Regions from separate parts of the Homo sapiens genome. Here region 2 is linked to region 1. The links come from fine-mapping of genetic effects on gene expression. A gene starts in region 1. The other region holds a variant in brackets. All regions are shown on one strand. Distances are between the middles of the regions.

The links. PIP is the estimated chance that this variant, and not a neighbour inherited with it, causes the effect. A credible set is the group of variants that fine-mapping cannot tell apart.
Region 2: its variant is the best candidate, but not a certain one, in a credible set for the expression of CTPS1 in putamen (GTEx, PIP 0.89).

Annotation. Positions count from the first base shown.
Region 1 is chr1:40,971,422-40,987,272 of GRCh38, reverse strand. CTPS1 (CTP synthase 1) reads right to left here and starts at 7,577. Exons shown (of 19, transcript NM_001905.4): 1 at 7,444-7,577; 2 at 3,817-3,995; 3 at 2,282-2,452. The coding sequence starts at 3,982. RefSeq lists an enhancer at 6,579-6,628 and silencers at 6,829-6,968, 7,039-7,328, 7,599-7,788, 12,002-12,296.
Region 2 is chr1:41,369,548-41,385,398 of GRCh38, reverse strand. FOXO6 (forkhead box O6) reads right to left here. Exons shown (of 3, transcript NM_001291281.3): 2 at 3,191-3,783; 3 at 1,809-3,189. The coding sequence ends at 2,718. It overlaps FOXO6-AS1 (FOXO6 antisense RNA 1), which reads left to right and starts at 9,730. Exons shown (of 2, transcript NR_135817.1): 1 at 9,730-9,874; 2 at 10,147-10,395. RefSeq lists a silencer at 3,113-3,162 and enhancers at 13,025-13,923, 13,924-14,823. The variant C/G (reference allele first, on the strand shown) is at 5,852.

The sequences.
Region 1 (15,851 bases):
GGAGAGAGTAGCAATAGGGTCATAAAAATACTTTTGAGGCCCCCTTTAACTGGCCTCAACAAATCTCTGAGCTCACACTTCCTGCAGCCAGATGTCTAAGTTGTTGCTGGAAGCCCTGCAACAGAGCAAGGCTGACAGCAGTGTCCTGAGCCACACAGGCGCACGTGCCCCTGTGCAGAGTCTACCCTTTTGGCCACACACCAGTATAGCCAACCCTATTGCTCACAGCTGAAGGTAGGCACATTACACTTCAGTGCACTTCCAGGAACAAGAGACTTCTGGGACCCTGTTCCATATGTTTCCAGTTTACCAAAGGGTAGACAATCCACTGCAGTGAGCCAGCACAGCACAGCAGAGTGGTTAGAAGCACAGCACCCGGGGTCAGAATGTCTGGATTCAAACCTTAGTCTCATGACTCGTTAGCTGTGGATCTTTGGGCCAATTATAGAACCATTTTAAGCTTGTTTTCCCCACCTGTTAAGCTGTGGAAATTTTGTGAGACAGCACCTGTAAAATGCTCGGTAAAGTGCCTGCCATGTCAATGCTCAAAGAATGCCAGCAATTGCTCAACACTTCAAAAATCATAGTTGTTGGGCACAGATGGCAAGTTCCTAAAAGGTGAAGATTACTGTTTAACTCCAGGTTACTCCAGTTACAGCAATGCCTCATGCACAAGGATATTCATTTGCCTCACGCAGAAGAATATTCATTATCTACTCCACACATGGCGTCAAAGTGATCTTTTAAAATTCAAGTCAGAATTCATCACTCCCACACTTCAACTTTTCGGTGGCTTCCCACTCCTCCGAGTACACTCCTAGCTTCTTGCTGCGGCCCAGCGACTGGGTAGAACCTGGCTGTGGCTACCACCCCCGCTCTCTGACCATCTCCCTCAGTCACTCTGCCTTAGCTATGCCGGCCTCCCCTCCATTCCCGGACCAACCACGCCTTCGTAGCCCTGCGCCTCCGCACTTCTCATTCCACTCTCGCTGTGACTGGCCTCTCAGCTCAAATGGCCTCTCTTGGGAGACTCCCCGACCACCTGCCCAAAGTGGCTTTCCCCAGTCACTCTGTCCTCACTCCACTTGGTTTCTTCACAGCTTCTGACAGACGTCTCGTTTTGTTTCATGTTTGTTGTTTGCCTCCCCCACAGGTAACCTCCATGTGGGCAATGACTTCTCTGGTCTTGCTCATCACATGCATCACCAGCACCAGTGAGGGTCTGACTGCAGTGAGCATTCAATGCAAATTTGATGGATGATGAATAAATAAACAGCAAACTGTAAGATCAAAACCATTCTAATTCCTAACTGATTCCTTTCTATGTGTCAGGAAGTCAGGGAAACACTTCACTGACTTTTAGTTTCTTTAATCTTCCTAACAACCTAGAGAGGTAGGTGTTGTTATTGTCTCCATTTTACAGAAAAGGAATCCACATTTTGAAGAGGTTAATTTGCCCATGTTCACAAAGCTGGTGAGAGGGGAAGCTAAGATCCAAACATGACCCAATTAGCCCAGAATCTTGCCAGGGCAGCCCCAGACCAGAGCCAGCTGTCAGTGTGACCCTCAGCTTTCAGGCCAGTAAAGTCTAAAGCCAAAAGCAGATCTGCTCTCATAACTCAGATTAAAGCCACTTTTCAGCAACCTCTCCAAATTTGGGCCACTGCCATTATACTAGATCAGTAGTTTTCCATCCCCACCTTTTTAAAGCAGCAAAACATTTTCCTTAAATGAATGTTTGTACAAAACCCCAAAACAGCAAATAGATGTAAGCGAAGCTGTGCCAGTGAAAGCTTGGGAGGACCCAGAAACCCACTTCTCAGGCTCCTCCTAGGCCATATGGCACTGATGAACGGCCTGGAAACCAGTATACACAATAGATGTTCATTTCCTTCTCACTTCTATACATAGTAAGTCCCAGATGCACACATACATGCCATCTGGCTTAATGCCCTAATCGAGTTGCCTTTACCACTTTCACACTCATTACTGTGTAAAAACAACAGCTCTCTGGACTCGTATCATGCTGCCTTAGCAGAATTGACAAGCTTCAACGAAGAAGTAGTTCTTCAAATTATTTTTTTTAGCAAACAACAATATAATTCTGATTTTTCAACTGAAGGCATATTTCAGTAACAATACCTTGAGAGTTTCATGCTGAAATCACATACAATGTAAACTTCTGTACTCAAAAGGGAATTACACATCTGTGTAGAGGTGGGAGGGAGAAGAAATTAAACTGGTTAAGACTTTTAAGCTTTAAAGGTAAATCCAGTATTACCTTGGACAGTTTTCCCCAAGTAATCTCCTTTCCGTTCCTTGTTAATGACATACTGGTATATCTTTCCAGTGGTCAGATTATTGTCCTTGGTGAGGCGGATGTCAAGGAACCGCTCATAGTTACCCAGGTCAAGGTCTACTTCCCCACCATCATCCAGCACAAAAACCTCACCTGCAGTGAACAGAGAAACCATTTACGTTAAGTGAAAAATACCTATACCATGGCACAACTGCAATCCTGAAATAAAACACTCATTAACAAGGTGTGCAATTACGTAATAGGAAGCACAGAAATTCACTTCTAGAAGACTAAATATGACACACAAAAAGAAAAATTACCAGCTATTCTCTAAAAGGTAACCTCATACTTCTAGCCTGTCAACAAACTCATTCTTAAGAAGAGTTATAAAATAGCATGGGATGGGAAGAAATGACAGCCCAGTGGGCTGTGCATACAGGACTTTACAGTAGTATACAGCATCTGCTGCTTAGGGAAAAAGAACCTTCAGAAACGTCTCCTAATTGAGCATAATATGGTTTAAAGTATGATAACAATATTTGATTCAAAACCTGGATATATGCATATTAAGCTTGTGCTGATTATAAAAATCAGCTTCCGAGCTCTGCTTTTGTTCTAAACAACTTTGTGAAACTGCACATATTTACCCCATTCTTTTGTTGCACATTCATTCCATGAAACTTCACTCTAGAAATTTTGCCCAGAATGATTCATTCCTACCATCACAATAGGAGACAAGCTCAAACACAGGAAAGGAAAAAAAGTCTCATTTTCTCCCTCAGAGAGATAACTCATCCTCTGCTCAAGAATTCTGTATTAAATATCACTCAGGTATATGGATCTTTTCCTGATGCCATTTGTTACGAGGATTTCTGCACTAGTGACATTTAATGCTTGCATATTTTCACCTCAACGCTAGAGAGTAGGAGTACGAATGCAGAATTTTAAAACTTAAGAGGTATGTTTTAACATCTCTCCCAGTTTTAAGCAATTAATCTTTGAAGTAACAGCCACAGCTGTATGTCACACCATTGACAGGTTCTCAATAACAACAAAGAAGTAAAAGGCAGTCGGGCATGGTGGCTCACACCTATAAAACCCAGCACTTTGGGATTACAGGTGGGAGGACCCAAGACCAGCCTGGACAACACAGTGGAACCCCACCTGTACAAAAAATTTAGAAATTAGCCAGGCATGGTGATTTACACCTGTAGTCCCAGCTACTCAGGAGGCTGAGGTGAGAGGATCGCTTGAGCCAAGGAGGTGGAAGCTGCAGCGAGCCATGATCACACCACTACACTCCAGCCTGAGGGACAGAGTGGGATCCTGTCTCAAAGAAAAAAAAAAAAAAAAAGAATTCTGCTTCTTCCTTTCTAGGTGAGAAAAGTATCATTCTGCTGTATTAAGGGACCTGTTAGAAGGCAGAAAATAAAAGTTATGCAAACCGTGCACATAATTCCCAAGTGCTGACATGTTCTGCCACATGCAATTATTATGAAGAAATCCACTGTGCTTACCATGCTCATAAGGAGAGAATGTTCCTGCATCAATGTTAATGTAGGGGTCAATTTTGATTGAAGTTACATGTAAACCACATGACTTGAGTATTGTGCCCACACTGCTGGCAATGATTCCTTTTCCAATTCCTGATATAACACCACCAGTAACCAGAATGTACTTCATTTTACTCTTTGACCTGGAAGAAGGAAAAATTACAGATGATATAAATGTATCTCAACAAACCAAACTCATCTGGGTTCAAACACTGGCTCTGCCAATTATTAGCTATGAACCCTCTTGAAGCCTCAGTTTCTCTGTCACAGGACTTCAGAAGGTTCTCGTCAGGTTTAAATAGGATCAAAACAAACATTTCTTGGATCACTGAATGGCTTTAGTCAAATACGTGTAGAAAAACAACTGCTACTCTAATAACACAGCTTTTGTTTAAAGCTTTGACAACTAATAACCTTCAGAGTCAACCTAATAAAACCAGCTCTAAGCTGGCTGATAGAACACTACACCCCAAATGTTTGCTGACATCACTGCCAGACACTGGGATACCAGGCAGGTGCCTCATTATTTTCCCTACATGGGAAAAAAATTCAAACTTGGATAAGTACTCCAGTTCTCCAGGAAATAAATAATGTCTTTGGCTAAACTACAACATATCATCAAGAAAACACAGCTCCTCTAGGTTACAAAAGATAGACTAAAAGGAAAGAACATCAACATTTAAAAGTGGTTGCAGCTAAACCAAAATTCCTTTAATTAAAAGTAGTTCTCTGGCTGGGCATGGTGGCTCATGCCTGTAATCCCAGCACTTTGGGAGGCAGAGCCAGGAGGATCACTTGAGGTCAGGAGTTCGAGACCAGCCTGGCCAATATGGGGAAACCGCATCTCTACTAAAAATACAAAAATTAGCCGGCTGTGATGGCGCACGCCTGTAGTCCCAGTTACTCAGGAGACTGAGGCAGGAGAATCGCTTGAACCCAGGAGACAGAGGTTGCAGTGAGCTGGGATCATGCCACTGCACTCCAGCGTGCGCGACAGAATAAGACTACCTCAAAAAAAAAGAAAAAGTAGTTCTCTTCTATAATTTAACAACAACTTGCTCCTTGTCAGAAATCTCTCCCAGGCATGCAATGAAGAGAGACTGTAAATACTGGGGGAGAGGGACATCAGATAAGAAACCAGTCTGAAGCACATGACGGGCAGAGGACTCAAAGAGAGGGGAGATGAGATTAAATCCAAAAAGCAGTGCCACGGTGGCAGGGAAAGGAGAAATAAGATATAAGGGCAGCAGAGTCAAGATGCAGGTGAAAACAGCATCGACAAGAGGTGAGGAGACCGTGACAGGCTCACCACGGAGGATTTATCACTGGTCCCCAGCTTCAGAGGTCCAGGATCGTCCATTTGGTCAGCAAACCCAAATGTGACCAAAATGAAAAACACAATTAGAAAGTAGCAGAAAATGCTTACTTTGGCATGGTCAGGACATTTTCCTCCTCAGGAACGTTCCATGTGAAGCCAAATTATGATAAAAATAAACTAAGGAACAAGAAAACTAAGGAGTTGTGCTCGAAGCATTCCCCCGCCCCACCCCCTCCCCAGAGCAAGAAAGAACACACTTGGCAGGGAAGGAAGAATGCTCAGAAGTCTTCCCCGCTCCAAAGGCTCTTTGCATCCTCTGCTGCAGCATTTCCAAAAGCATGCTCCCTGGTTTCAACAAAATGCACATGGGATTCTCAAAAAGGGTGTTATGGATATAAATCAGAGAAACGCTGATTAAACCAAGTCATTTAACGCAAGAATCCTGGGAGTGTTTAGCAAGTAAACTCGCACTGTGATCACTGCTATACAGTATGCGGTGTCTCCAAGCTTATCTGACCCTAAGTCTCTCACTTTACAGTTCCTTATTGACACATGAAAATCAGTCTTAGGTACATTTTAGATATGTTCTAACCAGACATATACCTTACTGAGACTATACCCTGGTCTCCCTAAGTTTTGGATGATCCTAGAAATTCCTCTGCCACCGAGTGAGTTACTTCTACAAAAGATTCATCTCATCCAATTACATTTGATTTGTCCCAATTTTACTCTAAGAGTTTAACATCTCTCTTTACGTTCTTTAGTTTCTCTCTTTAGATTCTTGCAGTCTCAGTGCCTGGCAATACATATGCCAGTGTACATAAAGATCAGGCGGGAGGCTCATTCATTCATCCTTATGGGCTACTGACTTACATGACAGCTACTGTGCTTGGGGACTGCAAACATTAATCAGATTTGGGCCCATATCTCAACTTTCTGGCAGTCCAGTTGGAGAGATGAAACATTAACAAATAAATGAGTAATTCAGTGACGGTGGAAGCAGACAGAAAACATGTTTAGACTATAAAGGGGGACGATGAGAGCAGACGCTTTCAGTACCATGGCCATCAGAGGAAGGTGAGACAAGTCCTGGGGGTAGTGGGCGGATCCAGGCGGCTCCTGTTTTGTAGATATGACTTGCAATGGGCCTTGAAGGACTGACTGCACGACTCAGAGCACAGGAAAGGGAACAGGGTGAACAGGCAGGTGCAGGGCAGCTACAGAGAACAGAGGTAAGGCCGTGAGGGGGAAGGCGGGGAAGCAGGGATATACAGTGGAAGATAAACTGGAAAGGTAGGCAAGGGCCAGATCATGTGCAAACTGGCATGCCCAATCTGAACTTAATCCTGAAGGTGACGGAAGGCGCAAGAAGGTTTTCCGGCACAGAAGTAACGTAAATCAAGACGCATCAGAGAAATTCAACAAAGACTGAGGGGGGAAATGCTTTTTCTTTCAATGTTATGAGATGAAGTGCCAGCCCCCATCACTAGTGTGCAGACCTCAATCATGTCACTTGAGCTGCCTGCAACGCGGGTTCTCACCTAGGGGAATGGGGGTGAGAATCTCTGCGCCGCCCGCGTCACAGGGCCGCTGAGGATTCGAAACTGTAACGAGCGTGGACGGAAGGGCGCCACGCAAACGTGGTGAGCTCTATACACCGCCAGCGCCCCGACCCCCGGCCGCCGGGAAGGGAGGAAGCCGTGAGGCCCAAAGGCCAGCCGCGGGGCCCAGGGCCGGCGAGTTCGCAGGCCCCCTCGTCCTACGGCGCGGAGCTGCCGCGCCCAGCCCCGGGCGGCTGAGCCCGCGCCGAGGCCGGAGGCCCGAGGCCCGCACTGCTTGAATGGATGGGCGACTGCCGGGCTTCCTCGCAGACGAAGAGCAAGGGCGGAGGGTGTGGGGGGGGGCGCCGCTCCACTCCCCTACGGCCTTCTCCGTCCGACGAGCCCGGCCGAGCTGATTCGGCGCGGCCCAGCGCGGCAGCGCAGGCCCCGCAGCCTCTGAAGCCGCCCCGCGCCCCGCTTGGCCCCTCTCCCCAGCGCCGCCCGGCCACGAGGCCCGCGCGCGGGAGCCGGCAGCTCGCCGGCCGGGGCGCCCGCCCCACTCCCGTTAGGCACACAGCCCATTGGGCAGGACGCCGAGTCACCTCGCCCCTGATTGGTAGGAGCGACGTCCGTCACCGCGGCGGCGGGGCTATTCGGCGCCGGGCTCAGCTCGCGCCGCTGACTCCTGCGCGGGAGAACAGATCCCCCCCGGGATCCCTGGAGTCAGCCTACCTGCGGCCGGCTTCAGATCCTCCCGTCAGCGACAGAGCTGGGCCGGCGACGCGCGCGGAGCCCCGGACAGCCAGTGAACAACCCCGACCGCATGCGCCCGGCAGTCTTTCACGGAGGCGGGCTCTAGGCTGTGCGCACGCAGAGGTTGGAGGGCGGGCCGGGCCTGGAGGGCGCGGGGCGGGGCGGGGCCTGGAGTGCGCAGGCGCGGGACAGGACCGCTGGGCCGCCTCCGCTGAACTGTGCCGCCGTAGGTTCGAGGCCGGGCGGGTGGTGGCGTGTCTGCCCCTCTGCTTCCGTCCCAGCCTGTGGCCCAAGCTTACTCTCTTGAAGGGGAGGAGGCTGTTTGGGAACTCACGCCTGGCCTATTCGTCACCTGGCCTCGCGTCCTCCCACAGCGGTCTCCTGGAGTTCTGGGCGTCGCCTTCCATCCGATGGTCTTTCACTGTGGGCTCCTGGCGGTGATGCGCCAGCGCATCTCTGCCTCCGGGCGAGGGACGGCGGCAGCGCCACCCTGGCCTCCAAGACGGAAGTGCGGAGGGTCGCGCGGCGTTGGCTCCTCGTCGGCCTCCCTCCTCCCCACACCTGCCCCGAAGGCGGCTGCTTTGGATGGACTAGGATCCCGAAAAGTACGGTTTCATCTAGCTATCGCTCCCTGAGCACCGACTGTGCCACGCACTGTGCTGGGCACCGAGGGACCCTCTCCTCGGACTAACGATGTAGGGAGGCACACTGAGCAGCTCATTACACTTTATGGTTGTTATGGGTGCTTGCTGCAGAGATGCTGGTGCCGGGGCAGTGAGTGCCCAGCGCGGGGACTGACCCAAGTCCGGTGGTGATTGGGAATTCAGGCGGGAAGCCCGCCCTGAAAAAGTAACTTTGAAGCAGAGACCTAAGTAGACGGCAAAGATGGGAAAGGGAGAGGCGGGGATAAGAAAGTGAGACATGCTTGAGCCCAACAGTTCGAGACCAACTTGGGTAACATAGCGAGACCCCGTTTCTTATAAAAATAATAATAGTAGGCCGGGCGCAGTGGCTCACACCTGTAATCCCAACATTTTGGGAGGCCGAGGCAGGCGGATCACAAGGTCAGGAGTTCAAGACCAGCCTCGCCAATATGGTGAAACCCCGTCTCTACTAAAAATACAAAAATTAGCTGGGCGTGGTGGTGGGTGCCTGTAGTCCCAGCTACTCAGGAGGCTGAGGCAGGAGAATAGCTTGAACCTGGGAGGTGGAGGTTGCAGTGAGCCAAGATTGCACCACTGCATTCCAGCCTGGGCGACAGAGCGAGACTCCTTCTCAAAGAATAAATAAATAAAATAAAAATAGTAATAATAATTTTTTTTTAAAAGTGAGGCAGAAGGAAAAGCCTGTGTACAAGCCCAAAGAGGCCGGCACAGCTGAATTGGAAGGCCAGTCTAGCCAAGTCCACAAGGGCCACAGGAAGCGAGATTAACATGAGATTAGGTTGAAGAGTTGGGTAGGGCCATACGGTGAAGAGCATTATAGACCAAGTAAAGGCTTCTCTTTCTCCTAGGGATAGTGGAAAGCTGTAGAAACTTTTGAGAGGCTTTTGACCTTCCTTTGAATAGTGAATATATGTACATGGTTATAATTTTTCCCCAAACACTACACAAGGGTATCCATGAAAAGTAAATCTCTTATTTCTGTACCCCAGTGTTCCTGTTTTGTTCTCTAGAAGCAGTCTGCCACAAGTTCTTAACTATCTTCACTGAAGGAGTTTTAAAAAAAAAGATGTGATGGGATCAGATTTGTGTTTTAGGAAAATCATTGAAGCAGATGGATTCCCAGAAACCAGGTCAGGAGGCTCCTGCAGTGGCCTCTTTTAGAGGCTTCTGGCTCCTTCCAGATCTGGATCACCAGTGCTTCAACCCTGACAACCTGCCCATGCTGCATTCAGCTCCAAATCTAAAAAATGTTTGGAATGCCAGGCATAGTGGCTCACACTTGTGATCCTGACACTTTGGGAGGCTGACACAGGGTGGGAGGATTTCTTGAGTCCAGGAGTTCAAGACCAGCCTAGGCAATATAGTGAGACCCCATCTCTACAAAAAATACAAAAATTAGCTGAGCATGGTGGCACGCATCTGTAGTCCTGGCTACTCCAGAGCCTGAGGCTGGAGGAATGCTTGAACCCAGGAATTCAAGGCCAATGGGAGCTAGGATCCCACCACTGCACTCCAGCCTGGGCAGAGTGAGACTCTATCTCAAAAAAAAAAAAAAAAAGTTTGGGTTGTCTTTGAAGGTACTCTACAGCCACATCTTCTTTCAAGAAGCATTTGATGTTTATCAAAGTGCCTGGAACATAACAGATGCTGAGAACATACTTGCTGAGGTAATGAAGATGCTATGGGAGATGGAAAAATGAGCCATTCACCCAACCACTCCTCTGAATGACCACTTGACATTGTCTTCTTCCTCAAAGCTCTTCCATCTCCTCCCCCATATTCTCCTCAGCTGGTGGTCTTGCTTCCCATTTCACGAGAAAATAGAAGCCATCAGTAGATTTTTCATATCCACCAACCACTTTTATCTGCGCACAAGCTCTGCGTTGTCTCCTGTTACTGTGGACAAACTGCCCACACTCCCAGAGGTCAACCTCCTCTTTGCTCCAAGTGCCATATCCATTTGTCAACTCAAAGAATGTCTAGTATGCAAGTGCCATATCCTTTCATCAACTCAAGAATGTCTAGTAGAATGTCCCTTCCTGCGTCATCAGTCTTTCCCTGTCTAGTAGATCTTTTCCACTACCGTGATGCAAACATGCTGCAATTTGTTCCATCTTAAAACCCCTCTCCTGACTCTATGCCATTCTCTAGCTCCCCCTCCATTTCTGTTTCACTTTTCAGCACAACTCCTAAAAAATGTTGTTTGTACTTTGCTGTCTCAATTTCTTCCCTCTCTTGAACTCATTCCAATCTGGATATTTTGCTCATATAATTTCACTGAAACTGATCTCGTCAAAAATTAACCTCCATGTTCTCAGACCTCTTCTTTGTACATCAGCCTAGACTCCAATCTCTAATGTCCGTAAGTCCCAAATAAAGACAACAGTGGGCTGGGCGCAGTGGCTCATGCCTGTAATCCCAGCACTTCGGGAGCCTGAGATGGGTGGATCACAAGGTCAGGAGTTCGAGACCAGTTTGCAAATATGGTGAAACCCCGTCTCTACTAAAAATACAAAACTTAGCCAGACGTGGTGGCAGGCGCCTGTAGTCCCAGCTACTCAGGAGGCTGAGGCAGGAGAATCACTTGAACCTGGGAGGCGGAGGTTGCAGTGAGCCAAGATTGCACCACTGCACTTCAGCCTGGGCGACGAGCGAGACTCCGTCTCAAAAAAAAAAAAAAATAGACAACAGTGTGGCTGTATGTGCATGGCATGAATGCATATGTGTGTGTGCACGTGCGCATGTGTATGTATTTACATATTTGGGCTGCTTCTCTCCCCCACCATAGGCCCAGTCTCCTTTTGGGCTCCTAGGTGCAGCTATACAGCCCCAGAGCTGCCCCCAAACTGACCACTTCCCTAAGAGCATTTGTCACAGCTGATCATTTCCTCCTTAAAAGGTGGGTGTCCTTTACTTGGCTTCTAGGAAACCACTTGCTGTTCATTTTTTCCTATTTCACAGGTTTCTCCTTCTAGATCTCCCTACCTAGATCCTCTTCCTTTTCCTCTATCCTGAACTATAAACATTGCCCCAAGCCTCAGTTCTAGGATCCCTTCTCTCTAAAGTCATTATCTAGTCATTAAAACCATCTGGCCCAGACGCAGTGGCTCACGTCTGTAATCTCAGCACTTTAGGAGGCCGAGGTGGGCGGATCACAATGTCAGGAGTTCAAGACCAGCCTGGCCAACATGGTGAAATCCCGTCTACTAAAAATACAAAAATTAGCTGGGTGTGGTGGCGCAGGCCTGTAATCCCAGCTACTCGGGAGGCTGAGGCAGGAGAATCACTTGAACCCTGGAGGCGGAGGTTGTAGTGAGCTGAGATTGCACCATTGCACTCCAGCCTGGACAACAGAACAAGACTCCGTCTAAAAAACAAAACAAACAAAAAAAATCCTTATTCTGACTACTCCCAAATTGATGTTCCCAGGCTGGATGTGTCCTGAACCCCAAGTTCTCTTCCAAGCCCAGGTCCTGAGGTGAGCCAGGCGCCTCGCCTACACGTGGGCCAACTCTATGATCCCATTGGTGCTCTAGAGCTCCCCGTGGGATCAGGCTGAGGCAAACTTCCTGAAAAGAACCAGTCTGTATTTTAGGCTTTGTGGGCCATATGGTCTCTTGCAATCACTCAACTCTGCCTTCATAGTGCAAAAGTAGCCATAGATAATATATCGATTAAATGAATGTGACTTATTTCAATAGAACTATAGCTGTGTTCACAAAATACTCTTTTACAGAAATAGAGCTTGGGTCTGAAGGCCAAAATGTGCCAACTCCTGAGCTAAACACATATCTTTGTCTCACTTTTTCCCCGCCCCATGCTCCCCTCGCTCCCTCACAGTCTTCACCTGAGGTTATTCCTCAGTCACTCGCTGACTCAAGAACCTACCTCCGGCTTTCTTCCTAGGGAACCCAGGCTAAGACAGGGTGCCTCCCGCACATTCCGTGGCACACCCAGTGCTTCCTCTGAGGCGTTTATCACAGCCTGCTGAGATTGCCTGTTCACTTATCTGTCTCCTCCATACCAGATTGGAATCTCTTTGAGGTTACTTAGCCTTTCTGTGTGTCACTTTCCTTATCAAGTACGTCTTGTGGACCTTTTAGTAACCAGCATCTAGCATCTGTAACTCCCACTACTACCCTATAATGCAAGTGCTGTCATTATTACTATATTACAGACGATGGAGCCAAGACTGAACACATGTAAACACCTTCCTGAGAGCACACGCGAAGGTTTGCTTTGGATTGTCTTTCTGTTTCTGTCCCTCATTCTGCCCATCATCAAGTCTTGCTTATTTTTTCTTCTCCAGGACTTCCTCGAGCTTTCTACTTTTATATGAATACGCTGTCACTCTAGTCTGGCATTCTAATGGATTATCTGGTTGAGAAATGGGGCAGGAGGGAGCCTACAACTAGTGATAGATTTGTTGTTTTTTTCCCAGATTGGGGCTATTTATGTTTTATTTAGTTTCTAATAGATATGTAAATGGCGTAAAATTCGAGTGTTAAAAAGGAATACACAGTAAAAGCTCTCCTTCCATACCTGTTCCCCAGCCACCCAAGTTTCCTCCCAGAAGCAACCACTATTACCAGTTTCTGGTTTATCCTTCAAGCACACTCTGTGCATATGTAGATATTCTTTTTGGCTGTATGTTATTTTAATATGACTGTATGATGTTGGATTTTCATCACTTGAGCTAGCTGTAATTATGTTATTTAGTGAATTTGTTGGTTTATGTCCTCACTTTGTTCAAGAAAGGATTTAAAGCCACTTGTGTGTGTGTCTACAAAATGTGAGCAAAAAATGAGGCAAAGGAAAGGAAGAATAGGAATTTTTCATCTTAATGACACTCCATTACCTTCAGGATAAAGTCAAAACCACACTGTGATGTATGAGGCCATGCAAAAATTGGCCTCAGTTTACCTCTCTAGCCACATCACCCACCCCATGCTCCAGCCACAATGATTCTTTCAGTTCTCTGAACATGCCATGTATTCTTTTCCACATATGAATCGTTGCATAGACCTCTGCTGGCTCTCACCTACCCCCCTGCTTCCTGCCTTTTTCTTGCTAACATCACATCACATCTCAACTTGGTCTTCACTTCCCCAAAGTAATTTTTTTGGGCAGACTCTCTCCCTCATTTGGGGTTAGCACTTCTCTCCCATTCTTTTATTGCTGCTGGGACGTCCCAGAGCATAGCACTTACCAAATTATATTTTAAGGGAGGCAGAGGGGAAGGTGGTGGTTAATGGGTACAAAAAATATATAGTTAGAAAGAATGAATAAGACTTAGTAGATTGGGTGCAGTGGCTCACGCCTGTAGTCCCAGCACTTTGAGAGGCCGAGGTGGGTGGATTGATGGAGTGCAGGTGTTCAGACCAGCCCAGGCAACATGGCAAAACCCCATCTCTACAAAAAGTACAAAAAAATTAGCTGAGCCTGGTGGTGCATGCCTGTTGTCCCAGCTACTGGGGAGGCTGAGGTGGGAGGATTACTTGAGCCACAGAGGCAGAGGTTGCAGTGAGCCAAGATCATGTCACAGCACTCCAGCCTGGGTGACAGAGTAAGACCCTGTCTCAAAAAAAAAAAAAGACTTAGTATTTGATAACACAACAGGGTGACTATAGTCAGTAATAATTTAATTGTACATTTTAAATAACTAAAAGTGTATAATTGGGCTGGGCGCCGTGGCTCACGCCTGTAATCCCAGCACTTTGGGAGGCCGAGGCAGGCGGATCACAAGGTCAGGAGATTGAGACCATCCTGGCTAACACGGTGAAACCCCGTCTCCACTAAAAATACAAAAAATTAGCCTGGTGTGGTGGCGGGCGCCTGTAGTCCCAGCTACTGGGGAGGCTGAGGCAGGAGAATGGTGTGAACCACTTTGTTCAAGAAAGGATTTAAAGTCACTTGTGTGTGTGTCTACAAAATGTGAGCAAAAAATGAGGCAAAGGAAAGGAAAAATAGGAATTTTCTATTTTAATGACACTCCATTACCTTCGGGATAAAGTCAAAACCACTCTATGATGTATGAGGCCATGCACAAATTGGGAGATGGAGCTTGCAGTGAGCCGAGATCGCGCCACTGCACTCCAGCCTGGGCGACACAGTGAGACTCCGTCTCAAAAAAAAAATAATAATAATAATAATAATAATAATATTGGATTGCTTGTAACACAAAGGATAAATCCTTAAGGGGATGGATACCCCATTCTCCATGATGTAACTGTTACACATTGCATCCCTTTATCAAAGTATCTCACGTACCCCATAAATATATATACCTACTATGTACCCACAATACATTTTTAAAAGAACAAATTTTATTTTAATAATCCACTTCCTTGCCCAAATCTCCCACTTGTCTACAAGCTCTGTGAGGTCGGGGACCTGTTTATCTGATTTTCTGTGATACGCCCAGTGCCTAGCTGCTTGTGGCACACAATAGTCATTTGTTACACAAATAAATGAGTCCAGAAATTCAATTAGATCACAAACTCTTTCGAGAGGAGAGTCACAAATTTGACTAACTTCCTAGGAGCCAAAGTGAAGAGGATCAATGTGACTATACAACAATTGCTCAGGAGGAATATCACTTCCTCAAATAACCCTTCATTGACCCCAGGTCCCTTTACCAGCTCCAAGTCCTCACTAATTTTCCTAGCAGCATTTATCAAAATTCTAACAATTGGTGGAGTAATTGGGTAGTTGTTTTCTGTCTTCCCCACCAGTCTGTATTTCATTTACGAGTATATCCCCAGCAGCTCTCATATGGCTGCATGTAGTAGATGCTCAGTAAATGTTTATTGAATTAATTAAAAGGACAATTATTTCTGCTACTGAGCTCAGAAATCAGTTCCCCCTGTGAGTCTTCATGGAGAGGATATAGGATATACAATGTAAGGATGAAAAGTCTCAATAGCATTTATACAGCAGACATACAGGCAAAGGTCACAGGCCTGTTCCTTAGAATGACTTCCTTTTTTTTTTTTTTTTTTTTTTTTTGGAGACGTAGTTTCACTCTTGTCACCAAGGCTGGAGTGCAATGGTATGACCCTGGCTCACTGTAACCTCCACCTCCCAGGCCAAGTTCAAGTGATTCTCCTGCCTCAGCCTCCAGAGTAGCTGGGATTGCAGACACCTACCACCATGACCAGCTAATTTTTTTGTATTTTTAGTAGAGACGTGGTTTCACCACGTTGGCCAGGCTGGTCTCGAACTCCTGACCTCAGGTGATCTGCCAACCTCAGCCTACCAAAGCTGGGATTACAGGCGTGAGCCAACATGCCCGGCCTAAGATGACTTTCAATAAAGGCTGGTGACAGTGTCACTGCATGTGATTTTGTTGTTCTCCAACCTGATTGCTGGGGAGATTTGAGGGGCAGTGAATTAAATACTACACTCTGAGAGATACATGGAATGATGCTACTCTGAACATCAGGTTAAATTGAAAGGCTGTCAACAAGCAGATGAGCTTGGGGGTAAAATTCATATTCTCCTCAGAACTAATTGATGTCCTTTATAGGGAACATGATGAAATGTCAGAATAATCTGACAGAGACATCTGTTTCATATAGGGCCTATAATAGTGTATATTACTATTATATATGAACATACAGTATAATTATACACGAGTACCTCAATAGCACATTTAAGGGAAAAATGTAGTAAAAGAAAGAAATGGCTAGGCGGGTACAGGATTACATGCCTGTAATCCCA
Region 2 (15,851 bases), 400 kb before region 1:
CCTATCTTATTTACTCCTCAAAACAAATGTGTGAAACAGGTGCTACTGCCCCATCTTTCAGACCGAGAAAGTGAGGCTCCAGAAGGCAAGAACATTGGGTATTCCTTTCTAGGACACCGTCCCCAATCCCCTGGGGTCCTGGTTTTCCTTCTCTTCTCCTCTCAGCCAGTGGGTCCCTCCTGTGCCAAGATGTTCATCAAAGCAGACTTGGACTTCCTGCTCTTCCAACTCTGCAATCCTCCCCCTCCCAAGCCATTTCCAACCCCTCAGTGACACCTTCTGTGTTCCTGATTCTTGACCTCCCTTTCCAGCCCAGACACCTTCTGGGCTCTGACCCCACTATGCAAGTGGACACCTCAGGGCCACTATGTTGCCCAGTGCCAGAGAATGTCATTTCACGCAGTGTGTATGCTCCTGAACATCCCTCCCTCTGCTCCAAATCCCAAAGATTCTCATGAACTATAGCTCAAATGAGCACATCAATTTCCCTAGGGCTCCTCCTGCTTTGGTGTGCCCCATCTCAAGGAATGGCCCTGTCTCCCCAGATACCCAAACAAAAACCAAGCATCAATTGATGCTTCCCTGTCCTTCATCCCCCAGGTCCAATCCACAACCAAGTCCCCAATGACTCCATATCCAAAGTAGATGTGAATTCATCCTTTCCCTTGCAGCCCCACTGTCCTCCCCCATAACTTGGTTTGAGCCACATCAGCACCTCTGGCTGGGCCACACTGTCCCTCTTCCACTGTTGAACCCTCTGGCCCATTAGCCTCCCTGCCATCAGTAATCTGTCCCTCTCTGAACTTTAGCCACACTCAACTGCTTTTGGTTCTGGAATCCACACACCTCTTGACTCTGGGCCTTTGAACATGCCATTTCATCTAAATCCCCTTCCCAATGCCAGTTCCTCCTACCAAGCTTAGCTGAGGCAGCACCAGTCCAGGCACCTTCCCTGACTCAAGTCCAAGATGAGTGCTGCCCCATCATTCATTCCCACGACAGCCCCCAGCTCCTCCTCCGATCAGCACAGCTTTGATCTATAATCGCCTATTTGCTGGCCTGTTCTCCCCAGGAGCCTCTAAGTTCCTTAAGAGTAGAGACTGTGTCCGTGTGGCTCTAGGGCAGCCCCAATGCTTGGTATAAGAACTTAACAGGTGCTCACCGAATCTTCCTGGAATGAACGAGTGCAGGACCTGCGCTGAACACTTTCCATACCTTTCCTCATGCCTGACAGAAGTTCATGAGATGGATGCTACTATTCCATGGTGTAGTCCAGGAAGACAAGGCTTCAGAGGCTGAAAATTTGCCCGAGGTCACACAGCTGGCAAACTGTAGAAAATGGATTCCAACAGCAGTCTGTGCACCTCAAAGGGATCTCTTTTCACCATCTCTACCCTCCTTCCCAAGTCATTTTCTCTCTCTGACCTTGTTTTCTCATCTGTACAATGGGAACAAAAATCGTGCCCAACACAGAGCCTGGCACTAAAGGTTCTCAGTAAATATTTGTGCATCCTCTCCCAATCTCTGAGGCTTATTTAGGACGCATTTTCCTGGGCCAAAACTTCGTGCATGCACATGTTCACAGAAACAGGTGCAGAGCTCGACGAAGCACATCTTCAGCACGGGGGACTCAGTAGGCGCTTAACCAATATGTGCCGGGCAGAGGAGCATTAGTTTAGCAAAGGCTGACGAGTACCCAGACAAAAAGCCACAATAGTGACTCAGGCACATGAACCCTCCCCCTGCCCCAAGTTCCCTGTCAATTATCCTCCGCCACCACTCCCCTTCCTCTAGCCCAAGGCGCGGGAAATATTTAAAACAATTTTATTCATGAAAATATGCTGTACAATGCACTCTACACAGCCTCGACACGGCACACACGCACACGCACACTCTGACGGCACGGCCACGGTACACTGCCTACGATACGCGCCGGGGACGCCGCGCCCACCGCCCGTCCCGGCCGGACACTTATAAATATGGGAGAAGGGCCAGAACTGGCGCGGAGAAAGGGGCGTCGGGGTTGGGGGTGGACGGGGCTGAGGCCCGCTGCAGAAGCTGAGACCAGTACTAGGGGGTGGGGGCGGTTGAAGAGAGGGACTGACTCCGACGGGGGAGGGGAGAAGCGAGGGCCGGCAGGGATGGGAGGGGGAGACTGAACTGTGGGGGTGGCGGTCGTCGGAGGGCGATTTGGGGGTGGAGGGCTGCTCAGGGTGGATGGATATAGGTAGGTGTGAGTTTTCCGCAGAGGGTTGCTGGCTTCGGGTGGGTGAGACTAAGACCAGTGGGAAAGTGTGTCAAGTGGGAATCAGATCCGTGTTTGGGGTGGGCGCGGGGTCACGGCTAGGCCTCCGCAAATGAAACTGAAGATTTGTAAACGCTCCCTGGCCCATCTCCTAGTTGGCTTCCCCGACCACCGTCCACACCAGGCGGCCCACCCCGCTCCTCCCTACTCCCAGCCAGCCTGGAATTCAGCCTCCTCTCCCAGGCTTCCTGCCCAGGAGAAGGGGGTGGATCTCAGGAGTGTGGGCAGGAGCAGTGGGGTGCCCCGGCCCCTCCCTCCCCTTCCCCGGCGGCCGGCCTCCGAGAGGGGTCCCTAGCTGGGCTGGGGCCGCCTCCTGGGGAGCTAGAGTCGGGGGCAGGGACCCGGGAATCAGGATGGGAAGACAGAGGCCCCCTGGGGACGGGACGGGGCGCCCGGAGGCGGGAGGCGGCCCTCAGCCCGGCACCCAGCTCTGGTTGGGGGGCGGGGCCCCGGCCAGGCCCGGCGGCGGCGGAGGCAGGGCCGAATCGAAGTTGAAGTCCATTTCGTCGCTGTCCATGAAGTCGTTGAGGATGATGGACTCCACGTCGCACTCGAGGCTCCCGCTGAACATGTCGAGGTCCAGGTCGGCCGGGAAGCGGTCGGGCGCGGCGCCCAGCGGCCCGGCGGCGGCGGCAGCGTAGGGCCCCGGCAGAGCGTCCAGCAGGAGGCCGCCGGGCGGGCCCCCGAAGGCGGCGGCGTGGCCCGGCGGTGCCAGGCCCGCGGCGCCCGCCTCGCCGGGCAGCGTCATAAGGCTGATGGGGTGGGCTAAGGCACTGCGCGAGGGCGCGGGCGGCGCGTACGGGGCCGCCCCTTTGCCGGGGTAGGCGGCGGCTGCGCCCGCCAGCGCCAGCTCCCCCGGCGCACCCAGCACCGGGCCGGGCCTGGGCGCGGGCCCGCGGCCCGTACGCGTCCTGCGCGCCGTCCAGCAGGCCCTCGGGCAGCCCCGCGCCGCCGCCGCCGTGCAGGCCCAGCGGGCCTCCCAGCTCGGCCAGGCGGGGCAGCTCACCCGGACAGCGCGAGCCCAGCGCCGGCGACAGCGCGCTGGCGGGGCTTGGGTACATGAGCGGCGATGATGGCGCCAGGGCCTCCAGGGCCTCGTCGTCCTCCAGCTCGGCCGCCTCCCCGAGCAGGGGTCTCCCGCCGCCGCGGAAGTCGGCCCAAGCCTCGTAGTCGTCGCTGGCGTGCGAGGCGGGGCTGGCGGCCCACTTGGCTGCGGCAGGCACCGGCCCCGGGGCGGGCGCACTCGGGGAGCTGTCGTCCGGGCTTCGCTCGGGCGCCTGCAGCTGCTTCTTCTTGCTCGCCTTGCCCTTGATGCGCAGGAACTTGGCCCCGTTGTCCATGGACACGGCCCTGCGCCGCGGGGTCTTCCCTGTCTTTCCGCCCTCGGGGTTCAGCATCCACCACGAACTCTTGCCGGTGCCCTCGTTCTGCACGCGGATGAAACGGGTGTGCAGCGACAGGTTGTGCCGGATGGAGTTCTGTGGCCAGAGACAAGGACGCGGGTGGGAGTCGGGGGGTGAGGAGGCCATGGGGAGAGAGGGGACGTGATGGAAAGAAGAGGGGGAGGATAAGAGAGTGTAGGAGGAGGAGGGAGATAGGGATGAGGATGAGGTAAGGGGGTTGGGAGAGGGAGGGGACAGGTGTAAGTACCGGGTTGGACAAACCCAGAGTACCCACCCTCTGCCCCAGAACTGCACCCCCCATCCCTCCCCACTCCCACACAGAGACTGCCCAGAGGGTGAGGCCACAGCTTTGGGCCTAGCCTTTCCCTGGGGGCATGGCCAACCCTGTGGGCTACTCTGAGCCTGCGGGGGGCCTGCAGCAGGGAGCAGGACCCCGTCTCCCCAGCTCAGCCAAGCCCCACGCGGGGCTAACCAGGCTGCCAGGGCCCCCAGCAGATTACGTAAGGGCTTATGCCGCCGCGGCTCATTTGTCCGCCCCCCTCCCTCTCCAGCCTGGCGTGGCGCCAGGAGCCCGAAAACCCAGGGCTCCAGAAATCAATCTCGCGGTGACTGATTAAGCCCTGTTTAGAACTAATTGCTCTTTCGTGTGTGGGGAGAATAAATTACCTGCTTTAATTTCGTGTCTTTAAAATGCAACTGCAGGTAGAGAAGACTGTTAACCCTTTGCTGGGAGGGCCTGGCCAGGGGAAACAGAGTAGGCTGGGGTCCCCAAGGTGGGTCCAGGCCTGAGACTTTTCGGAGGTATCACCCCAACTCCTCTTAGCTGCTGTGAACTCCACAGAGGGTTTGGATTCCAGCAGGCCCCTCAAAAGACATCCTTTTGCCACAGAGACCTCAGCCTTCACCCTCTTCAGTGCCCACCTTCAGGCCAGCCCAGCTCTCCTGCCTGCCCTTTGGGCTGCACCCTGCCCTCCTCTCCTGACCCACCTGCCTGCCCTCCAAGCCCCTTGCTGTTGGAGCCTTCTCAAAATCCCCACAGTGTGTGGCAAAGTCCCCATTCACACGCCAGAAGACCTAGGCTCAGAGAGAGGAATGGCTTGCCCAAGGTGGCCTTTTCTGCTGTCCCTCGGTTCCTCCCTGGGCTTCACCTCTGCCATCTCTCCATACATCCTCTTTTTAATTCTGCTGTGCCAGTCTCCAGTGCTCCCCATGTCACTGCCTGCTTTTGCCAGGCCTGTTCTGAGGACAGAGGAAGGCAGGAAGTCCACTGGCCCCACTGGAATCTGGAGTAGAACTTCTGCTGGGCCTGCGGCACCCCACCTCTGGGGCCTCCCACCTGGTGGCCTCAACTTCCTGGTCCAGGTACTGCTATGGAAACAGCAGGGGCTTGGGTATCAGAGGGTGGGACAGGATGCCTGGCTCTTTGGCTGCCTAGCTATGTGACCATGGGGTGTTTACTCAGTTTCTTGTGAGCCTCAGTGAACTACTCTGAAAAAGTGGGCTACATTCAGTAACTACCTCTTAAGGCTGTAAGATCATTACATGTGCATGAATAAGTATTTGCACACCAGGTGCTTATAAACGTTGGTTATATCCTCACTCTGGCCAGAAGCTCTCACCCCTTCGGTCCCCCAACAGACCTGCTGTTTCCATCTCTTTAACATCATGCCTTGTGTGCAACTGTGCTGGGCACCAACAACTCTGGGAAGCTGGCATTCTCCAATTTCATACACTAGGGACCGGAGGCCCAGAGGCATGATGTAACTTCCCGTGGCCCCACAGCTAGGCAACGATGCCCGGTACCACTCCAGCTCTGCCCAGCTCATGGACCTGCTCTTAACCTGTGAATCCACCCAGCCACACTCACAGCCACTGCTCTGTGAGGCTCTCCCTCCTGCCTCCTTCCCACCAGTCTCCTGGAGGAGGGGTCCTTCCTGCTGCCCAGGGTACCCTCCCACCCCTCACCCCCAGCTCCAGGCACTGATCTGACTCCTCAGGGCCCCAGGCTCCCTGTCTCTGGCACTTTCTGGCCTTTGAAGGCAACAGCTGGGACTTGCCAGCCTTGCCCTGCCTGGTTCTCTGGAGACCCTGAGGGGAGGGGAGCTGGGCCCCCAGGGAGCAGTGCTCCCTCAAGTAGATACCC[C/G]CTTCCTGTTCCCACCCCTGCACCTGGCTCCCCAGCCCCTCCCCAACACCTGTGTTCAGCCTCCTAGGAGGCCTCAGTTCTCCTCCCCCATAGGACTGTCTGGCTTACAAGAGGCTCCACCTCCCACCTCCCCATTTCTCCAGCTGGAGGTCACTCAGGCAACACCTCTTTATCAATGTCATTATGTCCTGGAGGAAGGACAGTACCAGGTACCAGCACCTAGCAAGCGCTTGCCCATTCAGCCCTGGGCACTCTAAGTACTTTATCAAATGTAATCATTAGATGAACTCCACACAAGTCAGGGATTGTGATCCCTATCTCATAACCGGAGAGTGAGGCTCAGAGATGTTAAGTGAGTTACCAGGGTCACACAGCTTAAGTGCTGTGCCATGTATTGATTTCAGGTTGGTGTTTTGTTTTGTTTTGTTTTGTTTTGTTTTGTTTTGTTGAGACAGGGTTTCACTCTAGCCCAGACTGGAGTACAGTGGCACGATCTCAGCTCACTGCAACCTCCGCCTCCCAGGCTCAAGTGATTCTCCTGCCTCAGCCTCCCAAGTAGCTGGAATTACAGGTGCGTGCCACTGCCACCCAGCTAATTTTTGTATTTTTAGTAGAGATGGGGTTTCACCACGTTGACCAGACTGGTCTTGAACTCCTGACCTCAGATGATCCACCCGCCTCGGCCTCCCAAAGTGCTGGGATTACAGGTTGGTCTTATTCTAAGTCTAAAGGATATCACATTCTGCCATGGAAGACAGAAACAGGTCTGAGAATCCCAAAGAATCTTAGGAAGCCAGTATTCCAGTGCTCCTCAAACTTTCCATGTAAACCATCCCTAGAAGCTGGCAGCAGGGGAAGTCTGGGGGCATGTTGCACAGGTCAAAATTTCCTGCAAGTCTAAGCTTCCTTTTTAGACTTCAAGGAAATTTTGCATAGACTTCATAATCCACCCACATTTTCTTTATACACATTATTCACATGTTTTAGAATTACCGCCAAGACAAGCTCCAGGCCTCTGAAGGTTTGCATCCTTCCCTGCTCTGTCCCATATCCAGCCAGGTACCCCTGGAGCTCAGGCCTCAGCCTGAAACCATGGCTGGCCCAACCCATGGGGAAGAAAGGACTTGCCCAAGGCTGTCCGAGACCTGGTGGCAGAGCAGGGATGTGAGCCCAGGCCTCCCGACCCCCAGCCCCGTGTTCCTCCCACTCTACCAAGCCTGACCTAGATGAAGTTTCTCCTTCTTTGGGGGCCTCAGTGTCCTGAACTATAAACTAAGGAGATGGGCAAGTTGTACTCTGGGAACCTTTTCAGTTTGACAATGAAAATCCTTAGAATCATTCAGTCCAGAGGTTTTCAAACATTTTTCTTAAATAGGGGAACTCTTTCTGTAAATGAGATTTAGTGCAAAACTTAAGCGTTACACACTCAAGCCAATGGTGGTGGGGACAGGAGTACCTGGATCCCTGTGCACTCAGCACCCTTTTTCACAGAAAATGAAGCTCCTGGGGAGGATTCTGCAGGCCAGATGGATGGGGTCTTTGAGGCACAGAGGGATGCCATGCCTTGCTCAGGGTCAGACAAGGTGGCTCAGAGCTGAGCGATGACCTAGGCCTCTGACTGCTGAGCTGGGCTCTGAACCAGGTATGCTCCAGGGCTGTGCCCCATGAGAGAAGCTCAGGCCCTGCAGCCCAGTCTGGCTCCTCAGGGCCCAGCCACCTGGTACCAATCAGAGCTCCCTGCCAGATCCAGTGGCAAGCACTGATCACAGCTCTGGCTCACACCACAAGGCCTCCTGGGAGGCCAGAGGCCATGGAGGAGGTGAAAGAGGCAGAGGAGGGAGATGCCTCTGCCAGGCAGCAGTAACCAGGGCTCCCTCTTAGAGTCGCCTAGCAACCCACCACCACAGCCACAGCCCTGGCATGCCCGGGCTCCCCAGGTGCCCAGAGCTGGGCCCAGCTTCTGGGGCCTCATGCCTCCCACACCTACATCCAGACCTGGAGCATGTTGCTAGGGGAGTCAGGACATACCTGATTCAGGGCCCGAGGGAGACCATCTGGGGGCAGAGGGAAAGGACAGTGGGTTATATCTCATGCCTACCCCGTTCTCCTTCAGAACCTGGGCCAGGGAGCCCAGCCCCCAGGGATTCCCCCACCAGGGAGGAGGCTAGAGTAGGGCAAAGTACATCAGCTGTAGCGTTCGAACTGGATTCCCCGTTTCAGCCCCATCACCTGTGAGTGCTATGACCCTGGGGCAAGATGTTTTCAAGCTCCATTCCTCAAATGGCTCCCTGCTCCCTCCCTCACCTCCTTATAGCACTCCACGCAGCAGCCAGAGTGACCCTTCAAATAACCGAGATCACGTCCATTCCTGCCCAGATCCCTCCGACACCCTCCATCTCACTCACAGTGAGGAACAAAGGCCTTGCCATGGCCCACAAGACCCACAGTGACCATGCAGGTACCCCGCTCCATCCCTCCCTCCCATCCTCAAACCTGCCAGGCATGGTCCCGCCTGCCCCCAGATATCCACAGAGATCGCTCCTCTCCTTCCAGTCTTTGTTCAGATGCCATCTCTTGGAACGGGGCCCATCCTGACCTCTCTTAAAAACTGTTCCTCTTCCCTGGAATTTCTTGGCCCCCTGATCCTGCTCTATGTTTTTCTAAAGCATTTTCACATTCTAAATTAATACATTATTTATCCTATCTTTATATTAGAATATAAGTTTCATGAGGGCAGTGATTTTTATCCTTTTTAAAACTGTACCTCATGTGTTTGGTACATACTAGACACTTAAATGTTTGTCAAATGAATGAATGGATGAATGAATAAGAGAAAGTGTGTATGTGCAAGGAGGAGTAATACTGTGTTGTAGGGAGATTAAATAAGACTGGGCAGAGTGGCTGACACATAATAGGGGCTTTTCCAAACTGGGCAGAAAGAAGACACAGGCAGGATGAGAAGCAGGCAGTGGGGTGAGAATGTCCGAAGCAGTCTGACCCACTGAGGGGTGCCAGGGAGAGGAGTAGGGCATCCATTGGGGGTGAAGGAGAGGTCCCACGGTGCACAATGCAGCTGCCTGCCCTCCCCAGCCCCCCACCCTGCTCCCCAGAGAGACTTGGATAACCCAGGGCTGGCACACACCGAGGTCTCCCCTGGGCCAGAAGACGCTCCAGGAGCCCCAGTGGGAACAGGATAACCTCGTCGTTGCTGATGGTGCCTCCCTCATGGACAGGGTCTGATCCATTTGGTGGTGGCAGCTCATCTATCCAGCAGGACACCCTCATCTATTCCCAGGATGCCCTTCACCCACGAGCAGTAATGCATTCACCTGACAGCACAACCCCATTTATCCAGCACACCAGTCCCATTTATCCAGCAAGTACAACCTCATTTGCTAACAGCACTCCATTCACCTGACGGGCCCCCTCATTTATCCAGCAGGACACCCTCATTTATCCTCTGAGTCGGACACTCTCCTTCCTCCTGTGGTGTGGCTGTGTTCTCTGATGGAGCAAAAGCCGACTGATCCAGCAGGACGTCATCTCTACTACAAGTACACTTCATCCCCTGACAGTACAACCTCATTTATCTAATAATGCAGCCTCACCTTGCCCCCAAGTACCACCTCATTCCCTGACAGCACAACCTCGTTGATCTTCCGGTACAACCTCATTTCTTCTCCCAACACAGCTTCATTCTCCAACAGCTCAACCTCATCTAATCTTATGCCTCCAGCCAGGGCCTGCCAGATCTCCGGGAGCCAAAGGAGAGTGTAGAGAAAAGAGAGGTCCCTCATTTGCTGTCCCCCACCCACAAGGGCTGCCTGGTGCTATAACCATCCAATTTCTCCAGGCCCAGAAGGGGCCATGGACTTTGAGTTCTAGGCTGCTTGGCCAAGCCAGAACTCCACTATTGCCCTGCCTCCTGTTCTGTCCCCACCATGGCTACAGAGGGCCCACAGGATGGATTCTGGGACATGGACTCATGGTTGCTGTACCATCTTCTTATTTATTTATAGCCAGGTTCGTTCATTCTTTCTTTTCTTTTCTTTTCCTCTTTCTTTCTTTCTTTCTTTCTTTCTTTCTTTCTTTCTTTCTTGCCAGGGTATTTATTTATTTATTTATTTAGAGCCAGGGCCTCCCTCTGTCACCCAGGCTGGAGTGCAGTGGTGCAATTATAGCTCATGGTACCCTTGACCTCCTGGGCTCAAGTGATCCTCCCGCCCTACCCTCCCGAGTAGCTGGGACCACAGGTGTGCGCTACCACACTCGGCTAATTTTTATATTTTTTGTAGAGAGGAGGATTTCTTATGTTGCCCACGTTGGTTTCAAACTCCTGACCTCAAGTGATCTTCCTGCCTCGGCCTCCCAAAGTGCTGGGATTACAGGTGTGAGCCAACTTGCCTGGCCATCTCTGTGCCATCTTCTTCTGATCCTGGGCAGTGGGACTAGGGGAAGTTACCTTTTCTGGGGCACATTTAGTGGTGTGCTGGCAAATGTTTAACCACCAGCTCTTCTGGAAGTTAAAAAAAAAACCTACCTGATTTGATTTGTAGCTGTTGCTGCTTTCTGTGGTACGGATACTCACATCATAGCCAATTTTAAACTGCCACATGACGTCACCGAGTGCAGAATTGGGAAGAAGTGTGCACGATCAGCCCTCATGAGCCAGTGCAAACCAGCTCTCGCACACCACTGGCATGTGCTTCAAATGCTGAAGCCAGAGAAGGGCACCACCTACTACATGCCTAACATAGGCTAGGCTCCTTTAATCCTGATAACCATCCTGTGAGTAGGTACTGCGATTTTACAAAGGGGGCAAACTGAAGCTCAGGTGGGTTAAATGACTCCTGAGGCCACAAAGCTGGGAAATGACGGAGCCAGGCTTGGGTCTTAGGGCTGCTGGATTCCAAAGCCAGAGCTCTCCCACACCTACCCCTAATGTGGCAGGGGACACTCTGCTGTCCACCCCAGTGGCCATCTCCACCTTGACGCTCAAGCCCAAGCTCTCCTAGCTTTCATCAGAGACAGGGGACAAGGACTGTGCCCCCACCTACCACCAACCCTGTGCTACCTCCTGGCCTCCCTGGTACCTGGGGTCTTTCAGGATCCAAGTGCGGCCCTGCATCTTGTGTCCACCCATCACAGCCCAAGCCCAAGGTCAGGTGTGGATGCCTGTCCAGGTTGCATCACAGTCAAAGGCTCAGCCCAGCCCCTCCCTCAGGAGACTGACCCTGACTACCTGATGGGGAAAATGACCCAGCACCTGTTACTGCAGTGACCTCCTGTGGGGCTGTGGTGAGGGCTCTGATCCCCTCTATGATTCCCATTTCCTCCTTCCCTCCTGGCCTTCCTTCCTGCATACGGAGAGGTCAAAGACAGGAGACTGAATCCCAACTTCATCCATGTGACAGTGGGCCTCCACTATAACGAAGATAACAATCCCAGCATCCACAGGGACATATGGGACCTGGATGAAACCTCACATGTCAAGAATGTCATCCCATCCCTGTCTCAGAGCCCCAGGAGCCTCCCCATCCTACCCCTTGCCCCCACCCAACTCTGGGGCCCCAGCCTGGCCTAGGAACACACACCTGTGTCAGACAGAGCCACAGACACCCTGAGAGTCACTTGCCCTGCCATCTGGGGTGAAGTTCAGGTTCTCAGTCCAGGCCTCTTCCTGGCAAAAGATGTGACCTGGATGATGCCAGGGACCCGAGGCCATGTGCAAATCCTCGGCACTAGGGTCTGCAGTGGAGAAGGGATAGAAGGGCAGCTGGGGACCATGGGACACAGATGTCTCCAGGTGAGTGGGCTCAGGATCAGCAGCGGATCCTAGAGTGGGCAGCCTGGGGCCAGGAGGAACCAATATCCAAAGGAAGGCATGAGGCTCTGGCACCCCCCAGAGAAAGCAGAGCCCACACACCCAGGCTCGGCAGCAAATAAACCACCAACGAAAGTCCAACCTCACACTGCTCCAATGCCCATTCGTCCTTGTCACCTGCGGGCTTGGGTCCAAAACCAGGCTGATACTAAAGAGCCCTCTGATGTCCTCCAGCCTCATCGCCCCCTTCCCTTAGGGCCATCTGGGCCTCCAACCACCTTGGATGTCCCCATCCCTGTGCCTTTGCACACTGTTCCCTTTACTCTTGTCCCTTTCTCTGCTCTATCAGTTCCTGTTCCTCCATCAAGGCTAGCTCTGTGGCACCTTCCTCATCCCCTATGCAAGCCCCAAAGATAGATGCTCCCACCTTAGTGCTCCTGTAGAGATCTAACAGCAAACCAGAGCAAAGTGGTGTCTGAGCTGGCCTCCCTACTCGAACTCTGTGGGGCAATCCTTGGCTCAAGAGAAGTCAAGAGATAGGATGGAGCCCTCAGTAGCCACGAGCTGCTCATGCCTGGCATTTCTGTGTAGTTTCTGTTCAGCAAAATCTCAGGCCAGAGCTCCAAGGCTTGCCCACCCTCTACCAGGGTCCTGTCTGACCCTCCTCCCTGCTGCTTTCTCCTGCAGCTCCTGTTGCCTCTGCCACCTCCTTACTTGACCCCAGTACTTCCTGCCTCCTTGGGAAAGTGAGGCAGTGAGTGGGGAAGGACTACTGCTTCTGAGACATTGACCACATGCCATGCCCTGTGCTGCCACTCGAAAATTATCTCATTGAATTTTTGTAACAACCCTCTGGTTGGTTTATTGTCCCCATTTTACAGATGAGAAACTGAGGCTCCAAGAGACAAACTGACTTGCCCAGGGTCGCATAGTGTAAGTGGTGGTGCAGGAATTTACACCCAGGGCCCTTGCTCTTTCTCCTGCCCTGAGAGACCTCCAGAGAGGAGCCAAAGCCAAGCAGAAGCTCCAGCGTGAGCCTGGGGTAGGGGCAAGGGGACTCTCCATACTAGTTCAGCAACCCCTTCACAGACCCTCCTTCATTCGGGATTAAAAAGAACCCCTAAATGCAAAGCATTCAGACTTTTCCATCTCCCCTCTCAGTCTGAGCCCCTCCCTCCCTCTGCAGGCAGCACTTCCCCACTCCCCTGCCCCAGGCCCTGGGAGCAGCTGCAGTGACCTCACCCAGCCCTGCCCTGAGCCCAGCTCTGGGGAGGGCCCAGCAGCTGTGCCCCAGCCCTGCAGGCTGGCTCCTGGGGGAGAAAGAGGAAGAGTGGGCATGGTGCCAAGAGAACCATCTGCTCTCCCAGGGGCATGGCCACCCGCACAGACACTGGCCTTGCCCCCAGGGGCTGCCCTTGGTCCCCATGCCAAGGGGCTCCAGGAGCCCAGGGCGGCCCACCCAGACCGGGGCACCAGCCCTCATCTGCCATCTGTCTTCTCCTAGAGACTGAGAGGTCCTTGCAGGACATGTTGGAGCACTCAAATGTCCACTGGAAAATGAACAAGTGATCAGAGTAAGCCCTAGGGGCAGAGGCCAGAGGCCAGGGTAGGATGTGCTGAGCACTGCCTCCCCCAGCCCCGGCCCCAGCCTTGTCTGGCTAAGAGCCCTCAATCCCTTCCCGGGGCCCTCCATCTCGGCACATCTGTTCAGCTGGCAGGTGCCTCAGGAAGAGGGCAAGCCCCTTCCCCCAGGGCCCCAGCTCAGGTTACAAGAGGAGGAGGAGGAGGCCAGCTGAGGACAGAGGGAGGGGACAGGAGAGAGAAGGAAGAGGCCTCACAGCTTCCCAGAGTGTTGGGGGAGGGGAACTCAGAGCCAAAGAGGGAAGGGCCATGCCCAAGGTCACACAGCTTGCCAGTGGGGCAAAGAGGAGCCAATGTCCAGGGGCGGGCAGTCCTGGGTTCAAGGGTGACCTTGAACAAGACATGTCCTTCATCTGTGAAAATGGGGTGCCTAAAACCTGTCCTGCTTGTCATCCAAGGCTATGGAGAAGGCTCTGGAGGCTAGAAAGCAGTGGGCCCACCTAAGGGCAGGAGGGAACTTGGACATCCTGAATATCTGACACCTCGGTCTCAGGGACAAGAAAGGGAAGCATTAGAGGAAGGACCCTATTATTATCCTATTTTATAGAGGAAGAAACTGAGGCTCAGTTGCCCAAGGCTACGCAGAGGGTAAGTAGAGCTAGGCTATGCCCGCCTGTTTGCCTCCAAGACTCCTAACCACACAGCTTGGCCTCACCTAAGGGATTCTCAAGGCACCAAGGGGTGCTGCCTATGCCAGGCCTGATATCTGGGACTCTTTGGGCCTCTGCCCTATCTCAGGCTCATTTTCTCCCCTGGACCCCAGTAGCAGGCCCACACTGGGCACCTGGGCCAGCCTCTCCCTCCTGTCCACTCCCCACAGCACCCTTGAGTGACCTCTGCCCATGTCATTCCCATGGAGAATTCGCAGTGAGAAGCCCAGAGCGTGGGATGCTGCTCTTCAAGGCCACTCACTTGCTTTCCCAGTTTCAACGCCTGCTGGGCCCCACATAAGCACAGCCAGACCCTCTGCGGCTCCCCACACAGTCCTGAGGCCTTGACCCTCTTTGTCTGCTTTGTCTCCCTTCCCCTCTTCTACCTCCAAACACTCAGCTCATTATCTGGCCTTCCATCATGACCCTGAGCAGGTTTTACCCTGCATCAGAGTCAGTGTCCTCCTTTTATCTCCCTAGCTTGACCCCTGCAGGCTGGGATCTCAAGGTCAAGGAGCTAGTCCAGTCCCCACCCAGCAGCCCTGCATAATAGGTACCCAGTGGATGTAGCCCTGGATCACGGAATGGAGGGAGCTGCCTCAGCCCTGGGGGCTGCAGACCAGGGGAACATCAGGCTGGTCTGCCCCCACCTTCAGGGTGCTCTCTATCTGGGAATGGGAGCCAGGGACCCCAGGGCCATTCCCCAGGCCAGAAGCCTGAGGGCCAAACTCCAAGGGATAGCAGAGAGACAATGATTGGGAGGGGGAAGGGGCAGAGGGGAGGAAGGTCAGAGCCCTGGGCTAGGGTGGAGTTAGTCCTGGAGAGTTTCGTTTCTGCCACTTAGAGTAGGGTACTGTTCAAGCTGCTTACTTTTCTCATTCTTTGTTTCCTCACCTGCAAAATGGGGAAAGTAACCCTACCAGCTTCACAGGGTTGCTGGGAAATTAAATGAAAGAATGTACGTAATGGCACATGGCAGGTTGAATCCTGAGCTGGAATAGTTCAGTGTGGCTAGGGCAAGGGTCAGAAGATGGGAGGGTGGCTGGAAAGGTTGACTAGGGCTGGTGGCCAGGCCTTAAGTGTCCTACTAAGGCCCCAGGACTGGATTAAGCAGCTATACACATGACCCTCTTCTCTCCCTCTTCTCTGCTCTCTGAGAGCAGGGGCTGTGACTTTTTTTTTTTTTTTTTTGAGACGGAGTCTCGCTCTGTCGCCCAGGCTGGAGTGTAGTGGTGCAATCTCAGCTCTCTGCAAGCTCCACCTCCCGGGTTCACGCCATTCTCCTGCCTCAGCCTCCCCAGTAGCTGGGACTACAGGTGCCCGCCACCACGCCCGGCTAATTTTTTGTATTTTTAGTAGAGACGGGGTTTCACCGTGTTAGCCAGGATGGTCTCAATCTCCTGACCTCATGATCCGCTCGCCTCGGCCTCCCAAAGTGCTGGGATTACAAGCGTGAGCCACCACGCCCGGCTGTGACTTTTAGTTTCTTCACCATTCCAGTTCCAGAGAGGCTTCCTGAGTATTTACAACCACACAGACTCTGGCCTTGTCCCCAGGGGCTCCCTCCCTCCTGCAGCAAAGGCTCCTAGTAGCAAAGCATATCAGCCCTGGCTGTGGCTCCATTCTCTTCATCCATGTCCTATACAGTGTGATTTCTAAGCCATGGGGTGGCTGCATGATGCTGACGTGGTGGCCCAGTCCCTGGGTGCTGACTGCATGGGGTTCAGAACTCTGGAGGACCCAGAAGGAGTGAGGAAGAGGGGCGTAGCCTCAACCTGGGCAGCCTGCTTGGAGTAGAAGCTGGTCCATGCTGGGAGGAAGAGACAGGGGGACAGGCAGGAGGTGAGGAAACCACCCTCTAAGGCATCAGTTCAGAATGACCTGT